Regions from separate parts of the Homo sapiens genome. Here region 1 is linked to region 2. The links come from fine-mapping of genetic effects on gene expression. A gene starts in region 2. The other region holds a variant in brackets. All regions are shown on one strand. Distances are between the middles of the regions. Region 1 overlaps SNAP25-AS1 (SNAP25 antisense RNA 1). Region 2 holds the start of SNAP25 (synaptosome associated protein 25).

The links. PIP is the estimated chance that this variant, and not a neighbour inherited with it, causes the effect.
Region 1: its variant is the best candidate, but not a certain one, in a credible set for the expression of SNAP25 in lung (TOPMed, PIP 0.64).

Annotation. Positions count from the first base shown.
Region 1 is chr20:10,185,458-10,190,839 of GRCh38, reverse strand. All of the region lies in intron 2 of SNAP25-AS1 (SNAP25 antisense RNA 1), which reads left to right. All of the region lies in intron 2 of LOC105372524 (a long non-coding RNA gene), which reads right to left. Among named protein-coding and RNA genes, the nearest start is that of SNAP25, 31 kb to the left of the region's middle. The variant T/C (reference allele first, on the strand shown) is at 2,507.
Region 2 is chr20:10,216,219-10,221,600 of GRCh38, reverse strand. It overlaps SNAP25 (synaptosome associated protein 25), which reads right to left and starts at 2,771. Exons shown (of 8, transcript NM_130811.4): 1 at 2,624-2,771. SNAP25-AS1 (SNAP25 antisense RNA 1) reads left to right here and starts at 2,095. Exons shown (of 5, transcript NR_040710.1): 1 at 2,095-2,364.

The DNA of each region.
Region 1 (5,382 bases), 31 kb after region 2:
AATTCTGTAACTCGACATGGCTGATTACATCCATTTTTTTTTTCGGTCTATAGAAGCATGAAGGGATGCCTACCTTTCCAGATCTAATAACTTCCCATGGGACTGTAATGATGGTTAGTCCCTTACACCAAAATCCCCACTATTCCTCTTTCAGAATTGCCGTTATTTTCCCATTAGGACATTTCTATTCCTGGAGCTTGTTATCCTGACCCCATTAAGTCATAGCTTTGGAAAGACACACTTATTTAATTCCTGTCCTCAGAAATCATTCCCATTATTTCTTTATTTCATTGATTCTTGCTCTGCAGTATTTGTAATTGGTTCTTGTCATAGGAAGTCAAGAGGCTGAAAAGAGTAGAAAGGATGCTTTTCTCCAAGATATGACATATGCCTACCTGTATAGAACTGTTGTTTTCGATTTCTGCTCTTAGGAATATAACTGGGAAATGCCCCACCAATACCCTGCTGAAGTATAATGGGGAAGGGGGAGGGCAGTTCATTAGTGTCAACAATTTTGTCAGAGTGGAAATTAGCATCTCTCACAAATGGATATGATCACAGACTTAGGCACAGATCAGTCTGGGTATATAATGCTAGTCTGACTTAGCAGCTTGCTATCTGACCTTGAGCACAACCATTTAATATTTCTGTAAAATGTTCCCCTCATCTAAACTTTTGCACTTCTAGCTCATCTTTACCCTTCAAATCTCAACTCAAATGTCCTTCCTCTGAGAGGCCTTCTCTGCCTGCCCTCCCATGTAAAGAAACCAGCTCCATTTCTGGGTAATTATTCTCTCTTTTATTACTTTATTTCCTTCCTTCTGCTTATGATAATTATCAGAAATTGTCTTATTTACAATGTTTGCTTATGTGCTTATTTCTGATTCAACTGCTACTTTATCCCTAGCTCAGGATAGGTGCTCGGTTAATTAATGAAATGTCTGTGCAAGGCCAAAATCACTAGCCAGTCTGGTGAGAAGACTCAATCCAAATGATTATTTGCTATCCTCTGCTTAGCACTGTCCACTGGAAATATAATGCAAACCACTTATGTAACTTTAAATGTTCTAATCATCACATCAGAAAAGTCAAAAGAAACAGGACAAATTAGTTTTATATTGTATTCTACTTTACCCAATATATCAACATATTTCAACATGAAAGTTATTAACATAAAAATTATCAATGACTTTATTTACATTCTCTTTTTTATAGTATATTTTTTGAAATCTTGTATGTATTTGTTACATGTAGCACATTTTAATTTGAATGTTAAATTTTAATTCGGAATACTCGATCTGTGTTTAGATTTTGTAAGATTTATAGTTGAAAGAGGAAATTCACATACCCAAATTGTTCCAAATACGTTTAAATATTTTTCAATACTCTAATCAAGCAGCAGGTTTTAAATTTAAGTTTAAATGAATTAAGATGAAATAAAATTAAAAGTTCAGTTCCTAGTTACAATAGACACATTTGGAGTGCTTAATGGCCACATGTGGTCAGTGGCTACCATACTGCAATTCTAGATCTTGCCAAACATTTCTCATCATGTTGTCTTGTGGAAACATGTTCTTACAATCAGGTTATGTTATTCCAAAAGGAAGAAGAGAAAGGAACTTGCATGCATTAAATGGAGGTATACAGCGGGCACTTTGGTAAATGTTTTTTAAACAACCCTTGTAATGAATCTATGAGGCAAGTTTCATCATACTCATTTTATACATTGGGAAACTGAAGGTTGAGAGAGAGTTTGCTGCAGGCCCATAATGTCCCTCTTCCACTCCAGCGGTTTTTGGCTGAGAAGCCAGTGAGCAAAGGGAAGCTCACTCTCAGCTTTCTACGCGGTCCTCCCGACATCTTCCCAAGCACTACCCCGACCATCTGAGAGCACACCTGGCTTCTTCTCCTCAGGTAGAGGCAACGCAAAGTAGGCTTTCTGCTTCTCACTCTTGCAGAACCTGGGGTTGAATGGCCACAGGTGAGGCCCTCTTGCCTAAGGAATAGAACTAACATCCTTCTCCCCCTTTAAAGGGCTGAGAGAGCGCTGCCTTATCTCAGAGCCAGAGTGTAGACAATTGAGATCTTTCCCCACGGTTCTATGGGAAAGCCTCTGGGTTGGGATGGCCTCTGGGGATATGGAAACAAATTGGGCTGCAATCAGTTAAAATCTTCTGCATTATTTAACGTAGACAATGCTCCTTCTATCCTTTGAAAAAAATAGTATATTTATTTGTATTTTTATTTCATTTTTTAATTTTATTTTTTTTGAGACAGAGTCTCACCCTGTTACCCAGGCTGGAGTGCAGTGGTGTGATCTCAACTCACTGTAACCTTTGCCTCCCAGTTTCAAAAGATTCTCCTGCCTCAGCCTCCCACCTGAGTAGCTGGGAATTACAGGCATGCCACCATGCCCGGCTAATTTTTGTATTTTTAGTAGAGAGAGGGTTTCGCCATGTTGGCCGGACTGGTCTCAAACTCCTGACCTCAGGTGATCCACCCGCCT[T/C]GGCCTCCCAAAGTGCTGGGATTACAGGTGTGAGCCACTGTGCCTGGCCAATTGTATATTTAAAACAAGTTTGACGTGCCCAGTCATAATCTATCTTTACGCACTCAGTTTCTCAAAAGGGTTTGGGGGGGAAATAATTTTGATGGCTTTATATGTCTAAGATTACCACTTGAACTTCAATATCCCCTTTCTCTTCTTCTTTGGTGGCAGAACACCTTATTTTTAGCTGGGCACATACATCTCCCCTGAGAACAAGAACAACATTTCTCAGCTTTCCTTGCAGATAGGTGTGGTCATATGACTAAATTGGGCTAATGCAGTGTATGAGGAAGTGTTGTGTGAGGCTGATGAGCAATTTCCTTAGAAAATGAGCCTTTACCCTTCTTTACTTCCTTCCTCTACTGTGCAGGCTGGAATGCAGGTTTGATGTCTGGAGTTTCAGCAGCCATTTTGAGCCATAAAGTGAAGGCCAAGAGCAACAAAATAAAAGAAGCTCATATTCTTGGCACCGTGGAGTGCTAAATCTGCCCTGCACTATTTAAATTTAAATTTTTTTTATGTGAGAGGAATATAAACTTTTATTTCTTTAAGTCACTGTTTGCATTGTCTATCATAGGCATCTGCACCCAAATCAAATTCTAACTGAAACACACACTTCTGAAGTAGAAGACAGTTATGGAAGTGAGTGTTCTGCAACTGAAATGGCCCGATTAATTAGGTTACACATGGAGATGAGAGGTATGAGGCCTCACTTAGTCTGCTCATTATTAAAATGTATCTGATCTGTAGGCCCATCATCCATATTTATTCATGATGTAAGAAATTTGCATTAGATTCTTAGATTAAATATTAGGCCAGATGTAGAGACTACAACATTTTCCACATCTTGTTCATTTTACCATTTTTTATCTATTGATACATATTTATTTTTAAATTTCCTTTTGTTTCACTTTTACCTATATTTTTTGATTCAATATTTCTTTTGTATCTTTTCTTTTCTTTTTTGAGACAGGCTGTCACTCTGTCACCCAGGCTGGAATGCAGTGGCACAATCATGGCTCATTGCTGCCTCGACCTCCTGGTTCAAGCCATCCTCCCACCTCAGCCTCCTGAGTAGCTAGGACTACAGGCATATGCCACCATGCCTGGTTAATTTTAATTTTTTGTAGAGATGGGAGTCTTACTATGTTACCCAGGCTGGTATTGAACTCCTGGGCTCAAGCCATCCTTCCACCTTGGTCTTTCAAAGTCCTGGGATTACAGGAATGAACCATCATGCCCAGCCTGGTTCAACATTTCCACATTAGACTTTCCAATGTTATTTTTCACAGACACAGAGAGAGAATCATTACCAAGTGGAGTATTTTTCTGGTTAGGGCAAAATGGCACAAGGGTTGAACAAGGAAGAAGACAAGGTTGGCTTTCTGGGCTGTCAGAAAGTTATGCTTGTGATGTTGGCATCATTACCCAAGTATGGTTAAGAACGTGCAAAGGACATATGCAAAAAGTACATGTGCAGGAAGAAGACAGAAAGGAAGTGCCCAAATTGAGAGCAGTTGTTACTCTCTGGAGAATGGAATAGAACTCACACTATTATTTTTCATCTTATATACTTTTGGATTATTTGTTGTGTTTTTATCCTTAGAATCAGCATTTTTTATTCTATAATTTGAGAAATAGAAATTAGTCAAGAGGTGCATAGTCAAGAGGTGGTAGTGATTCTAAAGTCACAGAAACCATGGGAATGTTCAGCTGTGCCTCTGTCCAAAAGCCATTCACAGACCTAAGACCACATTCTGGAAAACCTTAGCTCCTGCTTGGATCTGCCCTTGTGTCTTCCAGGAGAGTTTCCTCTTTCCTGCTTAATCAATACAGGAGAGTTGTTTCTGGGTAAGTAGTAGGAGGGCAGTGAAATGCTGGGCCAGGCTGAGGGTTACCTGCAGACTGGGTCAACACAGACTCCAACCTAAATATTTACCCAGGTGCTGATTGCATGACTGTGCTTTCATTTTGTCATCACACTGTTTGCTGAGTTCCCTGAAATACCCTACTTCCTCTTACTCCAGACATTTTGCTATTCTTCCTCCCAGGAATCTATTTCTCTGTCCAGCTTCATGGTCATTGGCTTGTTATTGTAGATGATTGCATTAAAGGTCACAGATTTCCATGCCTCCATTTACCCACAGCTTTGGTTAGTGACCTTCCATACTGGTTCTGGGCTTGGCTGAGATGTGTTTAGCTAGGGAGACAGTAGCCAACTCATTGAAAAAAGTGGCTCAAAAAAGGGCATGAACATTTTGGCTTTCTCTCTTTCCCTTGGATCCTTGCCACAATCTAGAGAACAGGCTTGAGCTGGCCTGCTGGAAGGATGTGAAAGATACATGGAGCAGAGCCAAGTCATCCAAGCCAAGGCCACCCTGAACCAGGAACTGAGAGCTAATTCAGCAGCTGAGAGTGGATGCCAGAACAAGCCCTGCCAAGATCAGCCAAGACCAATCCAGATTTGCAGAACTTCCTAGTAGAAATGTAAGCGCATGAGAAATAACAAATGGTTGTTGTTTTATGTCACTACGTTTTGGGATGGTTCGTTACATAGTAACAGCTAATTGCTTCAGTTGCACATTCCTTTCCTCATCTGCCTTCCTCCTTCCACCTTACCACAAGCACATCAGCCCGTTTCTAAACAACTGCCTCATTTCCAATTCTCATAGCTTCCTTGGTCACATCTTCAAATACTTCCAATAGCTTGCATTCCACCCATAAGCCTGCAGAAGAGAGAGAGAGATTAAAAAAAGAAATATATTGAGGATCCTAGTGGTGGCCTATTTCATATGAGAGGGGCAAGGATTAAACTCTCCGTCTGCCCTGGGACGCAA
Region 2 (5,382 bases):
TGTAATTTGAACACTGAGGTGGTAATGCAGTAAATGCCGATGAACAAACAGGCATCAGAGGGTCTGTGTGAATGACTCCTGGCTCATCCTATGTCCATCTGCTCCTGCCTCTTCTCACCGCATTGCCCTGGATTTTAAAAATTCTAACTTAAAATGGGAAATTTCTCGATTTTTTTTCCCTGGAAGCTTGTCAATGATATAAATGTTAAATTCATGGTTCAATGATATATTTTTTAAATTTCTCAGTAAGCTATTCTAAAATTAGCTTTCTAATTGTGCACATTGCTTCTTCCTCTCAGCTCTGTGCCCTTTGCCATCTTCACTGCGGTCCTCTACTTCCCCCGCTCCTCCCCAGTCTTCCACTAGCAAACAAACCCAGCAGTAATTACTAATGTCCAAGCACGTAATTCCGGCAGCATTAGGCTTTTCATTTGACGCAACTACGCAGACAGCTGTCTGGACATGCAGCATGAAGTTAAAGCATTTTTAAAGATTCCTGCCCATATTTTCTCTCCTCCACTACTAAAACACAGTTGTTTATTTTTGTCTGCAGATTGCAAAGTTATAAACTTCTTTTATACGTTTACATACTCATATATAAATGTCCACCCAAATAATTTTACATCCATGCAAAATAACAGATCAACATATACATACATGGAAACACATGGTCATCTATAAAAAGAAAAAACACTAGGAAATAATTAAATAGCAGCGAATGAAATTACCTTCTGTATATGGACAGGGAATTTTAGTGTCTGTAGCATACAGATGATAGGAGGTATGACTATCTAAACACAATCCAAGTTCTCATTTGGGGTCTTTTAAGGGGATCATGATAGCGTTTCTTTAATGCATTGTATAGATTATTACATATGACGCTGTTACTCTTTTTTGCTAATGACTCAAATGGCATAATTTTGACTCTGGTCATTTTTATGCCAGTTTTATCTACATCAAACAGAGAGAAATACCCCTGATGACTTTTGCTCTCTCAGATGCTCCAAGCCTCAGAGTAGAAAATGGTTAAAGTAGTTATTACCACCTCAGCAAAATCCCGCAGTGCCATAAGAGAAATTGCAGTAGACCTTTAGGTCAGAGTTAAGTTCTAGTTTAACACCATGGTTCTTTACCTGCATTACCCTGAAGGACACACTTGGATTCTCCTGAGGAAGGCCAGTCTTAATATTGTCAAAATCTAAAGCTATCAGCCTGCGATAACCAGTGCTGATAGCAAATACTTCCAGTAACTCTGAAACCGTGGCCAAAGAGGTTAAATCTATTCAGTACAGGACCAGTAAAATTTCTCAGATATGTGTTTTTGTGGATGAATGCTTGTATTCATGCCTGATTGCAAGGATGGGGGAAGAAGGAAAAGGAAGAGTGATTCATTCTTAAAGTTGATTCTGCTTAGTTCAGCTAATCTCACATTTTTATCAAATGGAAACATAGAGAGAGATGTATCATCCCTATAAACAGATAGCATTGGCTTCTTCATATATACAGTACTTATGCTCACCCAAGATCTGTAGACAGATCTACTCTGTGTTAAAAAACAAAACCAAACAAAAACCTTGATACCCTGCTGGAGGATAAATCCATATTTTTTAAAAAATGTATTTATTTTCTACGTAAAATAAGGGTCAGAGGGCAACACAGAAGATTTCCACAAGTAGACTATTTTGTTGAAGCTATGCAGGAGGTGAGGAGGGGAACAGGAAATTGTCTGCAAAGGAGTCTCTGTGAGGAAGATTTATTTCTTTCTTGTTTTCTTTTAAGCTACTATGACTCCTCTATTAAGGGTCTCCGTAAGACCGGGGTCTCAGGGAGACAATTTGGTCTCCAGCCCTGGCACATCCAGCCCCGGCCAGGCATTTCTGCCGCAGGCAGATGAGGCGCTGCGGCCGGACCGCTGTCCCCGGTGCTGAAAGGTCGAGGGCGCCCGCGCGAGCCCTCGGTGTTGCTATCCAGGGTGCTGAGCGCGGGCCGCCGCAGTCCCCGAAGCCAGCCCACCCGCGCCAGCCCTCCGCAGAGCCCTCCCACCCGGCACGACCCGCCCGCCTCCCGCCAGCCTGCAGTTGACGTGGAGCAGGCGGCATAAATCAAGTCCGCGGGGCATGGAGGCTGCTGTCGCTGCAGCAGCTCAGCTTGCCCGGGGCGGGAACTCCCCCTTTCTCCTTTCGCCTCCCCAGCACCCACACCCTGTCTCCCCCTTAATTCTTCCCTGGATAATAGCACCCTAACGACAACAGTCATAATAATAGGGTTAGAACGACAGGGGAGGAAAACTCAACAGCCTAAATATCTCTGAAAACTGCATCGCAAAATGGAAGAAAGAGGGGGTCCCACTACTGTTTCAAAAGAGTAAGTTATTATTCGGTACGTACCCTCGCTCTTCCTCCCCGTCGCTCCATTTGCAGGGCTCCCGTTTCCCTTTTCCCCAGCAGCTCACCTCGAAAACACTTTATAAAGCCCCCACCAGACGTGCACACACGGAATACCGCACCCTAAGTGCACCAATACTTGTATTTACCCAAGCCCACTCGGACTGCCCAGCTGCTGTCCCTTCTGGGTATGCAGCCATCCCGAGCCAGAGCCACGACCTGGGGAGGGGGGTTCTTACCTGGGCTTCTCGGGAGGGTTGTGTTCTCCGGGCCTCTGCAGGTTGCAACTGTGGTGGAGCCGCCGAGCAGGGAGGGAAGGAAAGACAGCGCCTGACCTCCCCGAGGTTTCGTCTTCAATGCAACGTGAGCTCTGCCCTCATCAAAGATGGCCGTCCGTTTTGACGTCAGCAGCTTTTAATAGCCGCCCAGCGAGGGGCGGGAGGAAGTGGGGGCGGGGCACGGCGGGGGCGGGGGCGGGGCCCGGGCTGCGGCGCGCTTGACTCGGTTCCCAGTGCGCTGGCCTGCAAACCTGCGTGTTTTCACCTTCTATAAACACCCGCACGGGGCGACTCTTATGACTCCATTTTAACACTCGGTCTTGGGCAAACGCGTTCATCCCGCAACTGCATTCCTGATGTTCTTTGGTGTGTGTGCGTGTGTGTGTACATATGTGTATATGTGTGTGTATGTATATATGTATGTGTGTGTATATTTTATAATACATGTATAATATATGTATAATTTGTGTGTATGTGTATATATTCCCCCCCACCCCCACCCCCACCCCCTTTCAGTGGAATCTGTGGTTGAGTCATCTAAGGAGAGGGGAAGGCAGAGGAGGGGTAAAAGGTAGTGATGGGAGGGGTGGGGGAAATTTCAGCGGCGATTTGTTTTCTCCGAAGAGGGTCCGTAGGGGCATCCCCGTCCACCCTCGCCAGCTCCATATATGGCCAGGCTACGTGGGTTGCTATTTTTATGAGTGATTGCTTCATGTTATCGAAGCAGCGTCGAGGGCTTGTGGCTCTCGTTGCTGTGGTCAGCCGGGCAGCGAGGCTGGCGCACGTTATTTTGAACTACGTCAGAGCCAGGCTCTCTGAGCTGTTGCAGGAGTCGGGGGAAGGAGAAGGGAAGCGGAGTTAGCCCAGCCAGCGTGGGTTTGCAAGGACTCGAGGCTTGAAGTTGAGTTGTTTGCCGAGGGCAAAAACGGATGACTCTGCTTTCGGTGGAATTTGCAGTCGGTGCTGGGGTTTCATGCTGGGTGTCTTAGGGGTACCCCACGGAGGCACAGACGCCCCGAGGGAACCGTCCAAACGGCCGGGAGGAGGTGGGGGATTCAGAGCAAGGACGGCTGGGACACGGCCGAATCTGGGGGTTCACTCAGTGCGCAAACCCCGGGGTACCCGTGCAGGCTGCCTCGGGGGGCCCTCGGATGCTCAAATCAGGGCGGGGAGACAAAGGCTACTTGTGCTGGTCGTATTAGAGATTAAAAGTGATAATTATAAAGCAACAACCCTAACTGTCCTCCCTGGCCGTGCCCGGGCCCGGGAAGGGGGTGGTGCGCGGATCGCTCGGCGGTGGCAGCCTCCCGGATGATTCACAGGTGTTGGGGAGGCTGTCGCGGGGCTCTCCGCAGGGAGGGAGGGCTGGGGAGCGCGTGGGAGGTGGGGGACCTCGTCTGAGGAACTGTTTGTACTTTTCCGGGAAGGATGCGATTAGAAGTCGTGCCTCGCAATGTTAAAACTTGATGGCCTCTTTTAGGCTATGGAAAATCCTTGTCTCGCTTAGGAGAAACCATTTAGAGCTGGGTTCGGAAAAGCGGCGTACAACCTCTCCCCTTGCACCCTCGCCCCCCACCCCCGCCCCACCACACACACACACACACACACACACACACACACACACACATCCCTAGCTGGCCTGAGAGCCAAGCTTAGGCAATAATACGGCCTTTGATTGCGCTCCATTGCGGAGGGAGGGAAGCGGGGTAGGGGGAAGGGAAGAAGAGTTGTGAAGGCGCTGCGTTTAGAAAGAGACGGGTTGTTAAGAATTTAATAAAGGATACCTTTAATCGAAATTAGTAGACATAATTGTTTCTTAAAGATTCCCTGGCCTGAAGGCTTTTTTTTGACGTATTGATGTTTTTGCCATAATAATTAACAGTGTTTGGATGTTAATTAAAGCCAAATTCCTAAAAAAGGCATGTTGCTGAAATTTGTTTACTTAAATATTCATTAAACATTTAAGATTGCCATACAATAAAGAAGAAAATCTGCAAAGTCCTTAGATACTTAATTGCCAATAAAAGTCTCTTGAGTATGGCTCTTACTTTCATTATAAAGCAAGTTGGAATAGGGGGAAAGGGGTTTGAATGCAATGTACTGCAAAATCCTTTGTAGTCAGAATTTTTTCCAAAGTGTGACACTTTAAAAAAAGGCAGCATGCGGAAGTTTGAAGAGAAAAAAAAACCTGCAGAGGGAGAAAAAAAAATGTGTGTATGGCCCTCAGACTAGAAATCATTCAGGCAGAAAGTTTTGTGAAGGAATGGAGGAGGTGGGGGATTTTCCAAGTTAAAAAAAAAAAAGAAGTTAAAAAGCAACTACGTCAGTGATGGAGGCTTATCCTGCAGGCAAAAGCTATGTAGCAGTCACAGGGAAGGACTGGCTTGGTATTCTGAGTTTTCAACTGCTGATGCCCCACACTGACATCTATAAAAATGACAGACAAGAAGAGAGAGGCAGACTGTTTCAAGGCATTACAGAAAATACCATGGACCCTACAAGATTAGCTGGTGGTGGTGACAATGTTTTCCATTGCTAGTGCTTGTTGTGAAAATGATGCTGTTTGAGAGGTTCTTAGAGGTTCTTCATCTTGCTCTGGGAAAGGTAACAGAGTGTAATTTGAGATACATAAACATTGGGTACATAAAAATCTGCTAGGGATGACCAGATAACCCTAAATGTATTTTGAATAGGATAATGAGATTTTTTTCCCTTAGGAT